2 separate regions of the Homo sapiens genome follow, and region 1 is linked to region 2. The links come from fine-mapping of genetic effects on gene expression. Tissue or cell type: whole blood. Region 2 holds a variant in brackets; the other region holds the start of a gene. All regions are shown on one strand. Distances are between the middles of the regions.

Evidence for each region. PIP is the estimated chance that this variant, and not a neighbour inherited with it, causes the effect.
Region 1: CLCN3 starts here. The variant in region 2 is fine-mapped to the expression of CLCN3 in whole blood (INTERVAL, PIP 0.91).

What each region holds. Positions count from the first base shown.
Region 1 is chr4:169,615,054-169,626,417 of GRCh38, reverse strand. It overlaps CLCN3 (chloride voltage-gated channel 3), which reads right to left and starts at 5,840. Exons shown (of 13, transcript NM_001829.4): 1 at 5,355-5,840. RefSeq lists enhancers at 5,383-5,492, 5,683-5,912, 5,983-6,032, 6,593-6,662.
Region 2 is chr4:169,648,573-169,659,936 of GRCh38, reverse strand. The region is part of intron 2 of CLCN3 (chloride voltage-gated channel 3); the gene reads right to left. Among named protein-coding and RNA genes, the nearest start is that of CLCN3, 34 kb to the right of the region's middle. The variant G/TG (reference allele first, on the strand shown) is at 6,297.

The DNA of each region.
Region 1 (11,364 bases), 34 kb after region 2:
TTTGTCCAATCACATTTCTACACAGTTGTTGACTGTGCCTATGTAATGAAGCCTCCATAAAAACCCAAAAGGAGTGGATTCAGAGAGCTTCTGGATAGCTGAACATTGGAGGCTCCTGGAAGGTGGCGCACCATGGGAAGGCATGGAAGCTCCATGCTCTTTCCCCTATCTCCCCCTATGCATCTGTTCATCTGTATCCTTTGAACATCCTTTATAATAAACCGGTAAGTGTTTCTCTGAGTTCTGTGAGCTGCTCTAGCACATTAATTGAACCCAAGGACGTAAGGAGTGGGGGGGTCATGGGATCCCTGATTTATAGCCAGTGTTATCAGAAGCACAGGCAAAATCAAAATAACCTGGGGCTTGCGATTAGCACTGGAAGTGGGGGAAGTCTTTTGGGAACTGCCCTCAACCAGTGGTGTCTGACACTACCTCCAGGTACACCGTATTGGAACCGGGGGGCACCCAGTTGGTATCTGCTGCAGAACTAACTGGTTGGTTGCTGTGGGGGGAGAAACCCCCAAGCATCTGGTCACAGAAGTCTTCTGTGTTAATTATTGTTGTGTTGAGTGAGAGAATTAAAAAATACTTTGGCTGTGATTTTACCCTGCTCACTAAGACACATCAATATTGAGAAGCAGAGAGAGTTTGAAGAAATATTTAAGAGGACCTGGTAATTAATAAGATATAGGGAATGGTAAAGAAGAATCTAAGATATCCACTAAGGTTCCAACTTGATTAACTGAAAACAGTTGGCAGAAACAAATTTCAGTCTCCTGCAACTCACAGAACTCAAGACCAGCGTGTTCTTTCCAACTTTAGGATTATATGTCGAGGCTTTAGTTTCTATTCCAGGTCAGACTATAAAGAAGGTTACCTCCATTACACTGACCTGAGCCCCAAAACTGCAAACACTAAGCAATATGCCACCAGAATTTGGGGAGGGGAGCAAAAATAGGAAAACCATGGAAATGGGTGGCGAAAGGATCCACAGCCTGAGATATGCACACTAATTTTTCATGGTTCCCAACAAAGTTTTGTCTCTCCCATAAAGGAGACTGACTGGGTACAGCTGAGGACCACATCTAATTCCCAAAGGTGTGTCAGTCAACTCTCTGTTAAGCTAAAAAGAAAAGTGGATATAAACTGGGTGAAAGAAGAAAAAGATTGTCAATGTCAGCAACTAGAGAGATGGAACAAAAGTCTCAAGAGCAACGATGGCAGAGAGGTGAAAATCTGAGCTAGCCATTTGTATGTAAGGAGCATTTTCATATAAATATTGTAAAAACTGTGCTAAGTACTAGTCACAGATTGAAACGTGAAAAGAGGCCAGGTGCAGTGGCTCACACCTGTAATTCCAGCACTTTGGGAGGCCGAAGTGGGCAGATCACCTGGGTCAGGAGTTCAAGACCAGCCTGGCCAACATGGGGAAACCCCGTCTCTAATAAAAGCACAAAAATTAGCCGGGCATGGTGGCGGGCACCTGTAATCCCAGCTACTCAGGAGGCTGAGGCAGAAGAATAGCTTGAACCCAGGAGGCAGAGACTGAGGATAGCTGAGATCGCGCCACTGCACTCCAGCCTGGGCAACAAGAGCAAGACTGAGCCTCAAACAAAAGAAAAAAAAATGTGAAAAGGAATTTCAACATAACTTATTCATTTACTAACATTTATAGAATAGCTAACAATGTACCAGAAATTATAATAAATATGAACACAGTTTTTATTGTATTAATGCCATTATATTTGTATAGGCCCTACAGCTTTCAGTAGACTTCAGCATAAATTACATTATACATTTTCCTCAAGAGGGATGCTGTAATAGCTTTCTAAAAATTAGTATGTATTCCAGCCCAGTGCAGTGGCTCATGCCTGTAATCCCAACACTTTGGGATGCCGAGGTGGGCAGATCACATGAGGTCAGGAGTTTGAGACCAGTCTGGCCAACAGGGTGAAACCCTGTCCCTACTAAAAATACAAAAATTGGCTCGGCACGGTGGCTCATGCCTGTAATCCCAGCACTTTGGGTGGCCGAGGCGGGTCGATCACCTCAGGTCAGGAGTTCAAGACCAGCCTGGCCAACATGGTAAAACCTTGTCTCTGCTAAAAAGACAAAAATTAGCCAGGAGTGGTGGCGCGTGCCTGTAATCCCAGCTACTCCAGAGGCTGAGGCATGAGAATCGCTTGAACCCAGGAGGCAGAGGTTGCAGTGAGCAGAGATTGCACCACTACACTCCAGCTGGGGTAACAGAACAAGAGTCTATCTCAAAAAAAAAGTCACTACTATACCATAGGAATTAGTGTGGTCTACTGATTACATTAGCACTGGGCAAGGTTCAGTTTAAATCAAGTTCTCAGAGTACCCAAAGTAAAATCAACATATCTAATCCTTGCTATACTGACCTAATTTTAAACTGATTTTATAGGATTACTTTTCTTTCTTCCAATACAGTGATTCATCTTCTGCATTTAAGGTCGATATTAGAGATATCTAAAAGGATCTATGATGAATGGATAAAGAAAATGTAATATATATACAGAATGGAATACCATACAGCCTTTAAAAGGAAGAAAATTATGTCATTTTCAAAAACGTAGATTAACCCGGAGGACATAATGCTAAGTGAAATAAATAAGACACAAAAAAACAAATACTGCATGATCTCACATATGTGTAAAATCTAAAAAAAAAAGTCAAACTCAGGGAGGCAGAGAGCAGAATGGTGGTCTACAAAGGCTAGGGAGAAGGGGGAAAAAGGAAAGGAGAGAGGTTAGTCAAAGAATACCAAGTTTCAGTTAGAGGAGTAAGTTTTAGAGATCTATTGCATGCCACGGTGACTATAATTAATAATAATGTACTATATACCTCAAAATTGCTAAAAGTTAATTTTAAACGTTCTCACCACAAACAAATGGCAAGTAGGTGATATGATGGACGTGTTAATTTGCTTGATTTAACCTTTCTACAAAATATACATTTATCAAAACATCACATTGAACCCCATAAATATACACAATGATTATCTGTCAATTAAAAATAAATAAAAACAGACAAAAAAACCCAAATTCCTCAGGGGCAGCGGGTATAAATGCTAGAGGCTTTCAAGAGGACAACGGAATAAACACACATACAAATATAACACTCAGATTATAACAAGGAAGAAAGATAAAACAATAAACCAATAAAAAGTTGCTGTGGAAGACAGAAACTTTGAAAACTAAATAGTCTTCATGATTTTAAAAGACAGAAACTGTTCGATTATTTCTCACAAGAAATAGCAAGAAATATATTTATTTAACTTGGTTCCAGTCAAAGTTGCAGATCAAATCTCTCTGGATTTCAACAATGAAAGTGAGGCAGTGGGGTTCAATCTCCATATTAAACTTCACTGAAGATTTATCTTTAAGAACCAAAATGAATCACAGCTACAATGTTTATGTACAGATGTGAATGTGCATATTTAAAAAATTAAAATGTTTATTAGAGTAGTAAGATTATGAGTATTCCTTTTAAAAACACTGTTTCCCAGACTCTCTGTAATTTTACATTGCTTTTATAATTGAACCTACAAGCCACGTCCCTCCTTGTTTTTCTCTAGCATTTTGACTATTCTAAACTACACTATGGTGCAGCAGAGAGCAGGAACTCTGAAATCATACTCCCAGGCTTCAGTCTCAGTTCTGACAGTTACTGTAGGGCAAGTTAGTTAAATTTTCTGTGCCTCAGTTTCTACGAATGTAAAACGGGATTAGTGAAAGTACCTACTTCGTGGGGTTAGTGTGAAAATTGAGATAATTCACAAAAATTACTTGGAAAAGAGCCTGAAAACACAGAATGCATTCAACAAATATTAACACTTATTATAAAATATTATACATTTTAGATCACTGCTGACAAGTTTGACTACCAAACTAAGTTGGAAGTTCTACAAAACAGCGATAGTGGCCAAACCCCACAGGATACTGCTTTGATATAAGACCCACCACAGAGATCAAATCTGGCTTCCTGAGCCGTCTGAAAATTATGACCAACATGTCACAACAGGAAATGGAAAGCCTACCACTAACATGACCTGGAAAATAGCCAATTTACTAACACAAACCCACAACATCAACAAATCTGTTCCCCTGAACCACATCTATCCAAAAGTAGTTTAAATATTTACATTCTTAATGAGCTATGTATGACTGATAACACATACTGAAGTACAATTTCCAAGTAAAAATGTAGGTACTATACATTCATATTGACTTCTTAAAATAATGTGACTCATCATTCAAGTAAAGCAGCAAAGTTTTCGAGGTGCTGAGGGGAGTAAGGGGTGGGAAGGGTATGCAATCTGTGATGAATTCTGCCAACAGTGGCTGTCTGTATTAACCAGAGGCCATATACGCATATTCAAGTTGAGAAAATATCTGTAGGTCACACACATGGTTTTTAAAGCCATATTATAGAACAAGACACTGAATAGCAGCAGCACCTTTTAAGATGAAAGTCAACAATTTATACACAAGCACTTTAACTCCCATATGTACTCCTGAACTGAACAAATATTATTTTGTAGTGACTCACAAAGGGACGCAGTTATTTCCATACCGACCTCATAAAAAAAAATCTTCTAAATTAACTCTTTAAAGATGAAAGTAAAAGCATTTCTGGAAAGATTCAACAATTATACAAGCCACAATGATGCTGCAGTAACTGAACTGCATAGCTCCAAAAGTTTACGTTTGTAGAACTGAACTTTTGAATTATATATCTGTGTAAAAGGTATGGTCGCTGTTGATTCAATTCCATGAACAGGAATTTCTTTCTAAAGGAAACAGAAATCTCAGTTTCTAATATGCACAATGCATATGTAATTATCTTCTATATGCTCCGCAGTTTTAAAATGCCATACAAACAAAGCATACCACATGCAAAGTCAATTTCTGAGATTCTAAGGCAGTTTCTGGTCAAGTTTAAGATCAAACCACAAATATATATACACAAAAAATATTTTACATACATATATATCTAAAGATAGAAAAACTGAATATTATTTTTAAATTGGGGAAAATTTAGCGAAAGTAAAACCCACTCCTCTAAGTTTAAAGTTAATCTTCTCCTGGAACCCACTTCCATTTTATTCAGAGGTCCTTCGACGGTTCCTGAAGCAGATGTGTGAAATTTTAAAGAATGTCTGAGGGTATATACCTAATCAGGATGGGTTAGCATCCCAATTCACGATGTACCTTTCAACATTATGTAGGTACATTGTAAGAGAAACCAAGATGAGCGCTGTGGCCTCACAGTTGACCCAAAATCTGTGAACAGGAGAGCTGACAACTCTTCGCTCATACAATGCAACTCACCTCGCAGCTCAGAGACATAGCAAAATCGGTGGCTGTTTTTTGCGCTGCCTTTGGATTCTGCATCTGTTTCAAACCTAGAACCTAGCTACCCTCGGAGCTCCACCGAAGAAAGCCTGACACAGCGAAAACTATCGCGATTTAAAAGATACCTGACGTTTTCTACCGCAGAGGTTACGAAAATTTTGCCCGGTGGGACTTTTATTGTCCTCCTTCAAACACGGGAGCAACATGAAGTTAAATCCTCTCGCTCTGGAGATCCCTAGAGTCAACCTGCTTCTGCCCAAAATTAAAAATAAAAATCTCCAATCTCACTTCCCCCTTAAGACTAAAACTGAATCCATGCTCTAACTCGGGAGTAAAGTAGGATGGCTTTCAACCCACCACACCCTCCTTGCTCATTATTCCGGGTCACGGGCGAACTAGAACACTGGGAAAGGGGCTGCAGGTTCCGGACCGGACCGGCCCTGACCCACGGAAGGGGAAGAGAAGCGGCAGGAGTCAGGAGCCCGAAAGGTACGCCCCAGCGTCGACGCGTGACGTCACTACGTTGACGTGAACGGCCGTTCAGCGTCCGGCCGTCCCAACACCTCCTCCTCCGGCCACTCGCTGAGTAGCGTCGGCGCCTATTGGGCGGCGTGGGAACGGTGGGCGGGCCGGGACTGGGTCTCGAGGAGGAGGAGGGGTGCGAGGTGCCTGGCTCTGAGGGCCGCCGGGGCTGTGAAGCCTGTCATTAGCGATTAGCTCACGTCAGTCACTCACGCATCCCTGTTTGCCCTGCTGCTGACCTCGCGCGAGGCGGCCACCTTGTGGGAGATGTTTTCGTGAGGCAACAGACGCTGGCCGTTCCCAGCGTCACGCAGAGTTCGGATCCACTCTAGCGAGAGACCACAGCGTCCGGGAGCAGCTTGTGAAACTCTGGCGAGCGTCAGCCTTGAAAATAAAAAGTATTGGCAGCCGTCGACGAGCACAGGTTCCTAAAACTTAGATCGAAGAGAAGTACCAGCCTTCAAAAATAAACCAGCACCAAAAGCCCCCTGTGCTTATAGGTGACGTGCGGGCTGGGAGTGCAGTGGTGTCACCTCGCCTTGTATGTCATCGCCGGTTGTGTGCCTAACATACATACAAAAAGGATAACTCGAATTTAGCCATCACGCATTTTCAAAAATACTGCTTGGAAATTGAATGTTTGGAGAAAAGATATAATCTGGGGTTTCTACACGGTCTGAATTGGGTTCATTTCCGTTTAGCAAACATTTATTGAGCTCCCAGCGTGGGTCACAGAATTCAGTAAACCTGATCCCGTGTTCAAGGTGCTATATTCCGATGCAGGGCAGGGCGATGCAGTGAAAGAATGGTGGCCACAGCAGTAGCATGCTAATAGCCTGGTGGGCAGGTACAGGTTTTGCATTTCTTTGGCGAGATCACTTTTGAGTGTCTCCACTGGGTGGCAGAATTAAGACCCGTGAACGTTTAATATCTCCTGTATATTTAGTATATTATGAATATATACTGATTAATGAATATTAAGTGCGTGTTGTATATCTTGTGCCTCATGAATATTAAATATGACCTGGTCTTGCCAGCCTTTTCTATTTTTACATATACGTGCTCCACCGACTGTTTTGCAGGCTAGGAACACGTGAGTTTTGTTCTCCTATTTCTTCTAGGGCAGCATTGAATATTCTCAAAGACAGTTCTGGGCTTCAGAGCTGGTATAGTGCCCATGGTGGTGATCACAGTGCGGTCAAGCTTCTTAGGACCTCTTTCATTACTTTTATCCAGGTAGAGTTTGTAGAACTATGGAAATACCCAAGCACGATTTTCTCTTACCTGGGACACTGTTGGCCAAGATCTTTAGATTCTTCTTAGAAAATGTGGAAAAGCAGGCAAAAATTTTTCCAAACCAAGTGGAATTTTTCACAAGACATTTACTCACATTTTTTTTTCTCTCTCACTGTAGTTACGTAGCTAATTTTGGAAAGGCACATGGATTTTGAGAATGTAGACAGTAGTTGTGGTCTATTAGTCAATCTTACCTGCTTTCTATAAGGATGAAAAATTATTTCATGGTAGTGTCGTAGTTTCTTAATGGAGGATTGTTCCAAGGATCTCTCTTAAGTGTGCAAGAACAAGTCTATTTGTACGTTTGGTTTTTTGTAATATTATCCCTATTATGTACTACCTTATTCCTTTATAAGAACTTAAAGTCATGGTCTCTGGCATACATAATCATCGCACCAGTAGTTCTCAATCTTCACTTTGCATCAGAGCCATCTAGGGAGCTTCAGAAAAATATCCTTGCTTAGGTCCCACTCCCAGAAATCCTGTCTTAATTGTTTCAATGTTGGACCTAAGCATTCCTGTGTTTAACTCTTCCCAGTTGATCCAAGGTGCTCAGTCAGAAACACTGTGTTACATATGGGGCAATATATTTAAACAATGTGGTATGTGATTGCTTGGTGATAAAACAATAGATCGCATCTGGGAAAAAACGTTCTCTGTAATTCCTCTGGTGTTTTTGTCAGAGAATCTGGTGATGTTGAACTTCCTGTTCAACAGACTGGTGGGAGGAAACACAGGGTAAGCACCATAGCCAGATCTTTGGTACATTTTAAGTGCCCTAATGTGAATACTTTCAGCCTGATCTCATTCCATCGTGGTAAATACTACAGAAAGGATGCTGATTGATTGGCATTCTTACCACATCCCTTATTTTAGTGGGAGTGATTAAGAAGGAACTTCTTAGGGCTGAGATAATTCCCAGTAAGGAGGTTTACAGATCCAACTGTGGGCTTTTCTCCCATATGAAAATAATTTAACAGCCCACCTGATCTCTGTACCGTAAATAACTGCTCCCAGAACCCTAAGAAGAGTTTGTATTAGTATCCAAGTGCTGTTGTAACAAATTCCCACAAATTTAGTGGCTTGAAACAGTACAAATTTTTGATCTTAGAGTTCTGTAGGGTAAAAGTCTGACATAGGGCTCACTGGTTAAAAATCAAGATGTTGGCTGGGCAACCTCTTGGTGCCACATGTGGTGGCTCACGCCTGTAATCCCAGCACTTTGGGAGGCCAAGATGGACGGATCACCTGAGGTTGGGAGTTCAAGACCAGCCTCACCAACATGGAGAAACCCCATCTCTACTAAAAATACAAGATTAGCCAAGTTTGTTGGCACATGCCTGTAATCCCAGCCACTTGGGAGACTGAGGCGGGAGAATCACTTGAACCCGGGAGGTGGAGGTTGTGGTGAGCCAAGATTGCACCATTGCACTCCAGCCTGGGCAACAAGAGCAAAACTCTGTCTCAAAAAAAAAAAAAAAAAAAAAAAATCAAGGTGTTGGCAGGGCTGTTTTCTTTTACAGGCTCTAGGGGAGAATCCACTTCCATGCCTTTTGCAGCTTCTAGAGGTCACTTGACTTCCTTGGCTCATTGTCCACTTCCTCCATCTTCAAAGCCAGCAATGGAAGGCTGAATGTTTCTCATATCATATATAAGTCCCCCTTGCCATGTAATCTGATATATTCACTGGTTCCAGGGATTGGGGCGGTGGGGCAGGGGGTGTTATCTTGCCTACCATAGGGTGCTTAAATTCATCTTTTAACCACAAGTCTCAGTATGCATTTTTTAAAAGGCCCCCAGTATACAGGAAGTATTTGGAGACACAGCAAAATAAGTTATGTGAAAAGGGTCAGTTTCTTCCACTGTAAATCAGATTTTTGGGCTAGGACTGGTTGGAGTTTAAGTTAATAACGAATACTCAACCAATATTTAAATTAGCTTCACACTTCTGCCACCAACCAACCAACAAAACTCTTGGGGCCTCAAGGAAAGGGAAAAAGGACAAAAAGATTGACTCACAGTGTAAGAGTTTACCAATTACAACCAGGTGTAGGATAGCCTGTTCACTAGTATATCTGGAACCCTGGCAGATTGAAACAAGAGAAACAAATGATAGACATTACCAGTGAGTGGAGGTGGTATAAACCTTGCCCTCTGTCAGCAATTCTCTCTCTGGGAGTGGCAAGTTGGATGATGCTATTTTATAGAAGTGGCAAAGTAAAGAGCACTGGGAATCATATCTCAGTTTCTTCTATCTTGCTCCCTGGACCAGTAAAGTTACTCTGAACTTCCCTTGAAATAAAAAAACCTAGAAATAGGATTACTTACCATAACAACTTAAAAGAATACACTTAAAAAAAGTTGCACAGAAAAACCAAACAAGATTGTATAGCTCTACTTCATGTATTTATGAGTTGTTTCAGAAAAAGAACTTTGATCTTGCCAGGAGCGGTGGCTCATGCCTGTAATCCCAGCACTTTGGGAGCCTGAGATGGGTAGATCACCTGAGATCAGGAGTTCAAGACCAGCCTGCCGAACATGGCGAAACCCCGTCTCTACTAAAAATACAAAAATTAGCTGGGCACGGTGGTACGTGCCTGTAATCCCAGCTACTCGGGAGGCTGAGGCAGGAGAATTGCTTGAACCCGGGAGGTGGAGGTTGCAGTGAGCCAAGATCACTCTACTGTACTCCAGCCTGGTGACAGAGTGAGACTCTGTCTCCAAAAAAAAAAAAAAAAAAAAAAAAATTAGCCCAGTGTGGTGGTGCATGCTTGTACTTCCAGCTACTCAGGAGGCTGAGGCAGGAGAATCGCTTGAACCTGGGAAGTGGAGGTTGCAGTGAGCCGAGAGCACGCCACTGCACTCCAACCTAAGTGACAAGAGTGAAACTCTGTCTCAAAAATAAAAAGAAAAGAAAAAGAACTTTGATCTTATTGTTTATGTTTCAGACACATTGGAAAGAGAGAGAATAGAAGGGATTAAAACATTCTATTATGAAAATAGTAGCATGGTTCTAGTCTAGAATTTCCTCCTGATTCCACTAACATCATAGAAGTGAAAATGACCTTTTCTTGTCTTTTGTCTTTTCCCCAAAAATAACAAGAAGTTATCCGAAATAGCTTTGCACTTCTAATTACAATTCGAGACCTTTGACATGGCAAACAGTCTTCCAGTTTAGTGTGATTGTTTCCCACAAAACTGCCTCAGTAGGACTTGATACACTCAAAGCTCTTTCAGCCAATCATATCCTGAAAACAGTCTCATGAAGTGACTCATTTCTCAGGCTGCACACAACTAAGGGCACAGTGTTTTGTTTTATTCATCCTAGATACAGATTATGATCATTCTTTTCAGGTGGTGGACTCATCTGTGAGCCCTGGCAGGTGACCCAATTCAGAAAGCCAGAAACTCAAAAGCTGACTAGATGTTTTATCTTTGCATATGGAGCTGGGCCTACCAGATTAAGATCCAGAAATTCAGTAGGCTGCTACAGTTTAACTCGTAGCTATGCAGAGTTAACAGTGAGTTCAAACCACATAAGGCTAGAGTAGACTTTCAGGAACGTGGCTTAAATAACTAAAAATTTCTCGCCTAGAATGTAGCAAGATGGAGTACTAAATGCCAAGACATTGACTTTTTTTTCTCCCTTGGATTTGAATATTACATGTCTGTAAAAGATCTGGATTTTAGAGAATGCTTTTCTTCATATTTAGTATTTTAGGCCCTTCTCTAATCACAAAAGATTGTAGGTAAGTATGCATATTCTCACTCATAGGTGGGAATTGAACAATGAGAACACAAGGACACAGGAAGGGGAACATCACACACCGGGGCCTGTTCTGGGGTGGGAGGAGGGGGGAGGGTTAGCATTAACATGTTAAATGACGAGTTAATGGGTGCAGCACACCAACATGGCACATGTATACATATGTAACCTGCATGTTGTACACAAGTACCCTAAAACTTAAAGTATAATTTAAAAAAAAAGATTTTAGGTGAGTATAATCAGAACTTATGCCTTCATAAATACATAGTCTTAATAAAATCATTTACATAATAATTTCACAAAGGGAAAATAGTGTAGTTCTATACCAACCATTTGCTCTAATTTGTTATTCTCTATTTTGTTTCACCTTGCTGCCTGCTTTCTAGAAAGAAGGAATAACAA
Region 2 (11,364 bases):
GATGTAAAAAGGAAATTTTGAATGCAGACAATGCCCTTTTTCATTTCTAATGTAGAAAAATGAGAGCAGCACTCTAGTAAGTTTGTGTGGTTTTACGAGAGAATGTACTAGTTTTATACAGTAATGTCATGTGAGTCATAGCCATAAAAAAACTACAATATGCCAAAGGTTTCTCAAGAAACTTGGTTCTAAGTCTATTAAAAATAAAAAAAAAATACTCTATAATACAGCAGCCTTTCATTGAGGATTTAAAAACCGAATAACTGAAGAGTTGAATAGTGTTTTATCCCACTCACCAATCTCCTCCAGCGGCTTCTTGTTTCCTTTCTTGAAGGAACTAGCTAGTAAGACATTGTAGCTTTTGAGGAGAAAGAAAACTATCAACGTACTAAGTAACTTTACTATTGTATGTGTCTAAACTACGCAAAAAAGAGGTTTACTAAGCAGAGGGCTTTCCTATCTCTACTAGCTTCCTATTTTATCTCATAAGGGTTTTGTGTTTTTAACTTTTAGCAAAAATGTGTCTCAAAGTGAGGTACTCAACTGTTCTAGAAATTGTTATAAAATTCAGAAATTGTCTCTTTAATAGAAATTTTTATGAAGTTCAGAAATAAAGCAACTTTCTTGTTTAAAACTGTCATTAAAAACAAAAACAAAAACCGCACAATGCTTATTGAAGATCAGAGTTCAATATTTTATAGCTACCTCTGAGAGGATTCCTCTAGACTGGGAGATTCTCCTCCTGAAATGCCTGTTACACAGTGTCACTAAACAACAACAACAACAAAAGGTGTTGTTCATTAGAAGCAATTCCACAGAACTCAAGGGTTCTATAAAATTTGTTTTCCTAAAGTATTGAATGAGACAATCTCTAAGGTCCACTCGAACTGAAAGTGTTTACATGAAAATTGGAGGTGAGAGAAGGAAAGAGAAAACTCAGAGGGCAGTAAAGAGAAGAGAGAAATTCTCTTCAATTTGTGGAGTACTAAATTTTACTTATTTAGGGTCTTTTTAAAAAACTGTATAGGTTAAATCAAGTTTTTATATTTTAAATCTCAGATAAACAGAGCTTCTTATAAAATCTCACCTGAAATTTGGGAGACAGGGTTCCAGGAAAGGAATATAGACTAGAATTACTGCCACAGGAATATTCTATCTTATCCTGATTCTAGCTATTAAAATTTTTGATAGGATAGTAGGTGATTTTTTTCTTTATTTTCTGTATTTTTCAAATATTCTTGGCAATTTTTTCTCCTATGCTCCTTCCTGCACACTGAGCCAATAGTTTTTTTAAACAAGGAAAGCTTTGACAAAGGCTAACTGTACTAAATTAGCTCAATGTAAATTTGGGAGTGTGTGGTTCTTTTATATGTTTTACCACCATATAATTTTTCTAAATATATAATTGTATGGCATTTATAAAGGATTTTGTTTTTATACCATTCATGTTCTTATATGTCTTTACATAAAAAATGAAAATCTATCCACAAGTTTTCCCGGTATTTGTAGGCACTCTCTTAACTTGTTTTTCCTGATCTACAACTTGATCATAAAGAATGAAAATGACAGTCAGCACTCACTGATGGGGGAAATCCTCCCGGTAAAATAAATACTGACAATGCTTCATATTGTAAAAGTTTTGTAGCCATATTTGAATTATTTTTAAAGATAAACAATTGTGTGTATATATAATATATATCTATATAATTATATTTGTATAGAATTAAGTTTAGAATAAAACACATCAAGCCCTTAGCAATTGTTATCACTGAGACATAAGGTAGAGAGGTTGAGGAGTACATTCAGTGTTTATATAATTCCACACTGTTTAAACAAATATATTACTTTTGTAATAATAAACCTAAAAATCTTTAAAACTTCAGAAGTAAACACATCTCTTGTGTTTATGGGGTCCACAACTGCCACTTTCTTAAAGTAAAAGAATCAGTACACAGGTTAAGTCCAATCACAATTTAGAAAAGCACAAGGTAGACTGGAAGATGTGGCAAAAGAGGACTTTGACACATAAGAGGACTTTGATAGAGACTTTTTATTACCATATTAACAAACTGAATTACAGTCAGGGTGGAGCCCAGATAGAGAGAGAGCAGAAGACAAATTCAAGAATTCCTAGGCATAGCTCTGGAAAAATGCTCAGGATGAATTCTAAAGAACCAAAATCACAAGTAGCACACATGAAGCCATCAAAATTCAAAAGGAGAAGTTATTTTTACTTTCGAACGCACCCTCCACTGTAATCTCAACTTGATGTGGAAATCTGGATAAATCACAACCTCTCTGGGATGTCTCTGTATCTACAAACCAGGAAGGCAGAATAGATGATAATAATATTTTAAGAGTTCTACCTTTAAGCCGCCCCTTGTAACAGTAATGATCTGAGAAATCTACAATATTAGAAGTACTTAAATTTTAAAACAATAAAAATAAATTTTAAACAATTTTTTGCCTTTAAATCTACCAACTTATAGAAAATACAGGAGCAGAGAAACATGTTAAATTATAGCTCAAAAATGTAATCAGGAAAAAACCAAACTAGGAAACAAATGACCTGTTTTCTTCAACAAATACAATTTAGTAAGGAAAAAGGGAGAGAGGGAAACCTACAGAATTTTTTTTAAAAAGACTTAAAAGATACAGCAATACAATTTTTTAAGAAACAATTGGGGAAATGGGAAACACAAGATATTTGATTTTAAGGAATTATTCATATTTTAAAATAATGACCTTTAAAAGAATCTTAATCTTTTAGAAATACACAATATACATGTATATCTACCTACCTATATAAATGACACAATGTTTCAGATTACAACATAATTGAGGGAGTAGAAATGAAACAAAATTGGCTATGAATTGATAATTAATTAAAGTAAGTGACCAGGATGAAAAGGTACACAATATTCTTCTCCATATGTTTCCATGTTTTAAAATTTCTTCCATAATGAAAAGATTTTTTATTTGTATTTATTATTTTAGAGACAGGGTCTCACTCCAACGTCCAGGCTGTAGTACAGTGGCATGATCATAGCTCACTGAAGCTTCGACCCCCTAGCTCAAGTGATCCTCTCACCTCAGCCTCCCCAATAGCAGGGAATACACACGTGTGTGCCACCATGCCTGGCTAATTTTTTAATTTCTTTTTTTGTAGAGATAGGTCTTACAACGTTGTCCAGGCCCACCCAACACTGTCCACTGCACCAAGCCAAAAAGATTTTTAAAAGAATGCTTATAAATAAAACCACTTACATGAGATAAACATTAATAAAAAATTACAACCTTTACCCCTCTAATTAATAGAAGCAGGTTAAAAACTGTAGTTTACAATCCATCAGTATGGTTGTAATATGGTTTGGATCTGTATCCTCACCCAAATCTCATGTTGCATTGTAATCCCCAATGTTGGAGGCGGGGCCTGGAGGGAGGTAACTGGATCATGGTGTGGAGCCTACATGAAAGGTTTAGCACCATCCACTTGGTGCTATCTCATTATAGAGTACTCATGAGATCTGGTTCTTTAAAAGTGTGTAGCACCTCCCTCACTGCCCTCCTTGCTTTTGCTCTGGCCATGTAAGACATGCTAGCTTCTCCTTCATCTTCCGCCATGAATGTAAGTTTCCTGAGGCCTCCCCAGAAGACGCTATGCTTCGCGTACAGCGTGCAGAACTGTGAGCCAATTACATCTCTTTTCTTTATAAATTACCCAGTCTCACGTATTTCTTTATAGCATCATGAGAAGGGACTAATACAGGCTGCTTTAAGTTTACATTTGGACACACTATATGGCACTAAACCTTAACTTGCATTGTCAGTCATTCTCCGAATCAAAATGCATCAGAGAAAAAAAAAAAAGATACAGCAAAGCTTTTCTGGGGGACAATCAATAAACTACACAATTAGTTGTAAAGTTATTGAAGCCCTAAAGAAAGAAGAGGTGGAAATTCTTAAAACTGACAAGCCAGAAAATAAATGGAAAAAACAAAATGGTTTTATAATATTCATACCTCATAAACATAAGAAGTTTTAGTTTCCAATATAGCTATCCGGTTACCCAAATAACATATCACAGGAATAAAAATATGAAGAGTTTGCTTTCACAGACATCACACAATTGGCCCAGGCATGGCGGCTCATGCCTATAATCCCTGCACTCTGGAGGCTGAGGCAGGAGGATCACTTGAAGCCAGGAGTTCAAGACCAGACTGGGTAACATAGGGAGATTCCCAGATTCCCGTCTCTACAAAAAATTTATAAAAATGAGCTGGACATAGTGGCACATGCCTGCGGTCCTAGCTACGCAGGAGGCTGAAGTAGGAGGATCACTTGGGCCCTGGAGGTCAAGGCTGCAATGAGTCATGATTGCACTACTGCACTTTGGCCTGGGCAATAGAGCAAGACCCCATCTTAGAAACAAAAACAAAAAACATCACACGATGATCAATTTTTCAAAATCAGAACCAAAACCGGCAAACCTGTTTTAATGCCTAAACAATTCCTTTTGAAGGAGTTTCTCAAATATTCAGGCATGAACATAAGCTAATATAAAGACTAAGCAAAAAAAGATTTTAAGAGTTCTAAATTTTAGAAATATTTAAATCCAAATATGCCACTATTTACCTTAAGTGGAACCAAACTAAATGTTCCAATTAGAAAATAAATGCTACCTAATTGGATTTGAAAGTTCAACTATACAGTTCAAGAGTTTCAACAAAACAAACAGATGCAGAAAGACTGAAAGTAAAGAGGATAAAAACAGTATAATATGCAAACTCTAATCCAAAGAATATTGGGAGTTATATTAATATCAAAGTAGATTGTAAGATAAAAAACTATAATTAGAAATAGAGTTATTTAAAAAATAAAAGTGGTTCAATTCACCAGGAAGATATAACCTAATAACATAAGATCAAAGTATATAAAGCAAAAATTGACAGAATGACAAGAAGCAGTAGATAAATGTGCAAATACAGTGAAAATTTTTAAAATACTTAATAGAAACAAACAAGGAGAATAATCAGTAAAGAAACAGAGTATTTTCATAGATTAACAAACTTTACCTAATGGACATGGAGAGAACACCATAACTGAAAACTTCACATTATGTATTCTTATAGCATACATGGAACATTTACAAAAGTTGACTTTTTTTCTGGGCCACAATGCAAGTTGCAAAAAATTTCAACACACTGTAATTACATAATGCATATTCCCGGACCGCGATGCAATAATGTTATAAATAATTAAAAACAGCCAGAAATTCCTCATGTGTTGGAAATTATAAACTGAACTTCTAAATAACCTATAGCCCAAAGTAGACTCATTATAAACGTTAAAAATGATTTTTAAATAGTGATAATAAAAAAGGCATATGGCATAGAAATAAAACAGTATCTGAAAAAAAATTTATAGCTTTAAATGCACTTAAAGGCAAGTTAACTGAGGAGCTAACCATCCAGTTCAAGAAATTAGAAAAAAAACTCATCAAAATAAACTCAAAGAAAGTAGAAGATCAGAAATTAATGAAACAGAAAAGAAATACATAATAGAAAAGAACAAAAAAGGCAAACCAATTCATTGGAAAAACTAACTATTGATAAATCTACAGTGACACAGATTAAGATGGGGGAGGGCAAGGGGAGAGAAAGGAGAACAAGAGAGAGGAAGAAGGGAAAGGAGGAGGGAAGGAGAGGAGGGAATAGGAGAAAGGAAAGGAGACGGAGAAGAATTGGGAAAAAGAGAAGAAAAAGACACACAACCATTATCAGGATGAAAAACCAATAGTACAAAATGGGGAGTCTAGAAATAGGCCCTCCTATATATAATGAGCCCTTCATATATGTATCAGAGGTGGCACTGTACAAGAGTGGGTAAAAAATTGTTTTCTAGTAATTGATGTTGGGACAACTGGCTATCTGATATGGTTTGGTTGTTTTGTCCCCTCCAAATCTCATGTTGAAATGCGATTTCCAGTGTTAGAAGTGGGCTTAGTGGGTGTTTGTTTCATGGAGGTGGACCCTTCATGAATGGCTTGGTGCCCTCACCATGATAATGAGTGAGTTCTTGCTCTGTTAGTTCACAACAAAGCTGGTTGTTTAAAGGAGCCTGGCATCTCTCTCATGCTGCCTCTCTCACCATGTGACACGCCTGCTTCCACTTCAGCTTCTATCATGATTGGAAGCTTCCTGAGGCCCTCACCAGACAGAAGCAAATGCCAGCACTATGCTTCCTATACAGCCTGCACGACCTCTTTTCTTTCCTTTTTTTTTTTTTTTTTTTTT[G/TG]AGACGGAGTCTCACTCTGTCACCCAGCCTGGAATGCGGTGGCATGATCTAGGCTCACTGCAACCTCCACCCTCCGGGTTCAAGTGATTCTCCTGCCTCAGCCTCCTGAGTAGGTGGGATTACAGGCGCCCACCACCACGCCTGACTAATTTTTTGTATTTTTAGTAGAGACAGGGTTTTATCATATTGGCCAGGCTGGTTTCTAATTCTTGACCTCAGGTGATCCACCCACATGGGCCTCCCAAAGTGCAGGGATTACAGGCTTGAGCCACCGCACCCAGCCAACCTCTTTTCTTTATAAATTGTCCGGCCTCAAGTATTCCTTTACAGCAATGCAAAACAGACTAACACACTATCTATATGAGAAAAAAATGAATACACTCTAACACATACACACACACACACATATACAAATCAGATGACTACACAACTAAATGTAAACGGCAAAGCTCTTACAAAATAATATAGAAAAATGTCTTCATAACATCAGGGTAGGGACGTTTTTTAAAATTAAGACACAAAAAGCCTTGGCCATAAAGCAAAAGATTAACACATAGGACCACATTACAACTAAGAATATTTGTTCATAATTTGTCCATTAGAAGAGTGAAATGCACTCCATAGAAGATAGCTGTAACACATTTATCCAACAAAAAGTTTGTGTCTAGAAAATAAAGAACTTCTACAAATCTGTAAGATAGACACTCCAATAGAAAAATGAGTAAATGACCCAAACTGGTACTCTGAAAAGGATTTCCAAATAGACATGAAAAGATGCTACATCTCTTTGACTACAAAGAAAATGCAAATTTAAACCACAATCAAAATCCATACATAGCTAGCACACTGACAAAATTAAAAGTGTGACAATATCAAGTGGTTAGTGAACATGAAGCAATGGAAGCTCTCATACATTCTTGGTCTGAATGTATACTGAAACACTACTGGGGAAAACATGACCTATGACCCAACAAGTTCACATCCAGGACAAATAAAATTTGTGCACCTAAGGACCTAAGTACCACACAAGTACATGCATAATATTCAAAGTAGCATTGTTAGTAACCACCAAAACCTGTTAGGAGCTTCAAGATCCATCAAAAGTAAAATGAATAGGTAAACTGTAGTAAATTCATTTTTTAAAAAATGATATATAATAGTTTAGAGCAACCACACAGCTACTACCTGCAACAACATGCCTGATTCTTGAAAGCCACATTGTGTGAAACCAAGAAACAAAGACATATACACTATATGATTCCATTTACTTAACTTTCAAAAACAGGCAATCCTAAATTATATACTTCTTTTTTCAACACACCATTTCTGGCTTGAATGAATTATATTCTTAAGGATGCATACCTAGATGAGCAAACCACAAAGTAAAGCAAGAAAGTGATTAGACAAAGAGAAAATAGTATTTACCTTCAGAGGGAAAGGAAGGGTTGTGATTAGGAACGTACACAGGAGGCTTCTGGAATATGGTTATGCTTTATTGTCTTAACCTCAGTGGGCTACAAAGATGCTTGCTTTGTAATAACTAATTAAACTACACAATTACGTTTTATGCATTTTCTGATGTGTTATGTCACAATTCAAAAGTCTTTAAGTTAAAAACATATCCTAAGTATCTCTAATTCTATTAATATCTAATGTGGATTTCTTCTTTTTTTCCCTACCTAAACCCTTCTAGTTTAATCTTATTTACAGTCTCAATCAGTTGTAGGTAACAAATTTCATAAGCATCTAAACTGACTTCAATGTGTTCTAAGGTGCTGGTTTTTCCAAGGAATTTCCTCTGTATTTCAGAACTGTGTAAAATAGGTCCATAGACTTATTATTTTATGTATAATCAATCTTCTGTATCCAGGGATTCTACATCTGTGGTTTCCACATATGTGGATTCAACCAACTATGGCTTGAAAATATTTAGGAAAAAAATGGATGGTTGTTCTGTACTGAACATGAACAGGCTTCTTCTTCTTGTCATGATTCCCTGAGCAATACAGTAGCACAACTATTTACACATTTACATTTTATCAGGTATCATAAGTAATCTACAGACAATTTAAAGCATATAAGAGGATGTGTGTAGGTGATATGCAAATACTATGTCATTTTATATAGGGGACTTGAAAATCCATGCATTTTGGTACCTGAGGGGCTCCTGGAGCCAAACTCTCACAAATACCAAGAAATGACTATATTTGCTTCAGCTTATGATTTTACAGGTTTAGCACATAACTCCTCCAGCCCTTTTCAACTGAAATTCTTAACCAGAACCACAACACAAAACATGAAGCTTGAAAATTTTCTCAATTCTCCCAAGGACAGTTCATAGGTAATATTCTACATGCACAGAAGAAAAGTTAATTTGTCGCATCATGATATTAGGGTGAGAAAGGTAGAGTGAAGAGGTAATCATTTTAGTTAACTTTCTTTGAAATTTTTTTAAGAAGAAAAATTTTTTTTGCAATGCAATGACAATAATTAAGGTGGTAAGTGAGGTATAAACCACCAGTTTCTGTATATTATAAAATTAAGCTGATTTCTTTCCAATGACCTTTCTGATGATATCTATCCAGTACTTGATTGACTTTCCACTGGCATCTTAGGCTAATTTTATCAAGGCACCAGTTTATTATTAATACCAACTTCTTTCCTAGTTCATTAGTAACATCCTGAATTACAGCATTTCATAAACCTAGTATGAGTTTGTCTTCCCTAAATGCATTACCTTACTCTTATATAAACGCACAAATTTGGGCAGTCTCCTACTCCCTCATATAAGTATAATAGGTTAACTAAGTTGCTCTGGCTGAAGCAGTCTGGAGACACAGGTGTAGAAATGTTTACAAAGTAGTTGGCAACAGAATGTGAAGTGTCAAATGTATTAAGAACATGACCCTGCTTAGAATAAATATCAGATGAACTTTAGAATTATTTGTTTATTTCTAAAAATAATTCAGAGTAGAGCATTTAAAAGAGCTCTGACCTTTTCCCAACAGACAGACATTAAATGGTAGCAGTGATATGTTAACTTCATTTAAGAATTTCTTACAAAAACTCTGCCAAAGATTTACAATGTAACCACCATTCTATACTTTCTAAACTGGCTTAAGAATATATGTTGTCAAATTTGACTTTAGAGTCAAATGTCTTACTCATTAGAATACTACCAATGTTATTGGAAAATGCCAGATAAAACAATAAAACTAAAATCAACTTGTCATCTACTGAAGACAATATGCGCACACATAACCTTTGAAACTCTGTAGCAAAGCCAAATTCTTCTAACTAAGAATACTTTTCTTGGAGCTATACCACAACTTTATACTGTTGGAAATTTTTCTGTGCTTATAAATCTACATACGAGAATACTGTGTTTCCTAAAACACCTTTCTTGGATTGTTTTATTAATGTTTTCTACCAGCAGTTAATATCAAACAAAGAGCTTCATTATTCTTAGTCACAGAAAGAACCAACTCAACTGTTTTATCAGCACTCAGACTATCTTTAGCAACAATTCCACCACTCATTTTTTTTTTCTCTTAGATAGGGTCTCGCTCTGTCACCCAGGCTGGATGGAGTCCAGTGGCATGATCATGGCTCACTGCAGCCTTAACTTCCCAGGCTCCAGTAATGGTCACGTCCCAGCCTCCCAAGTAGCTGGGACTACAGTCGTGCACCACCATGCCCCAGCTAATTTTTATATTTTTTGTAGAGACAAGGCCTTGCCATGTTGCCCAGACTGGTCTCAAGCTCTTGGGCTCAAGCAATCTGCCCGCTTCGGCCTCCCAAAGTGCTGGGATTATAGGCATGAGCCACCGCGCCCAGCCTTTCACCACTAATTTTCAAAACATCATATTCACTACACATTAACAGATGTTTTATTTCTGGGAACTGAAAATACATTTGTGTATCTGATTATTATGCAACCATTAAAAATGATTAAGCTCTTGCACCATAAGGCAGTGTTTTATATATTAAAAACTCTCTGCCTTATAAATGGCACTACCAACTGCATGTGCTAGAAATACAGAACATTTATCCTTATACTCCCTCATTCTACATCAAAACAATCAGTATATCTGGCTGATTTTACTCCTAAATCTATTTTGAATCTCTCTACTCTCTATCACTACCTATAGTCCTAGACACTATAATTTCTTTTCTGAACTATTATATTTACCTCCATACTCTCACCACCTAACAGTCCATTTGCCCACATGGCCTCTGAATGATCTTCTTAAATTACAAAGTTCGTATGATTCCCTTGATTCAAAAATCTTCAGTGGTTTCCCACCACTCTTGGGGAAAAGTACCAAAAACTTTACATGTATTATTTAGACCTTGCTTAGCTACGTCTTCAGCCTCAGTCCCTCGCTTTCTAGTTATCATTCTCTGCACTCCAGACATTTTACCTCTAACGCTCCAAGTTCCTTCCCTCTGCCTGCAACTGCACCTGTACAAGCTCCTAGCACCTCCAATGCCCTGCTTCCTTCTTTCACATGCCTGACTTGTATTCGTTTTTCAGTTCTCATCTTAAATAATACATATTCAATTTTGATTTCCCCACTTATATGTTCTCACATTCATACTTTTTTTTTTTTTTTTAGATATTCTCCCTTTATCACCCAGGCTGGAATACAGTGGCACCATCTCAGCTTACTGCAACCTCTGCCTCCTGGATTCAAGCGACTCTCGTGCCTCAGTCTCCCGAGTAGCTGGGATTACAGGTGTGCACCACCACACCTGGCTAACTTTTGTATTTTTAGTAGAGACAGGGTTTAGTCACATTGCCTGGGCTGGTCTCGAACTCCTGGCTTTAAGTGATCCATCTATCTTGGCTTCCCAAAGTGCTGGGATTATAGGCATAAGCCACTGTGCCTGGCTGACATTCATACTTCTTTACAGCCCTTATCGTATCACAGTTGTAACTTTTTTTGTGAGATTGTTTAATAGTACCCTCTATCACTAGAGTATAAGCTCCATAAGAGAAGGACACATCATTCTTCTTCACTGCTCTATCATTAGCACCTACCAAGATGTCTGGTCCACAAAGGAG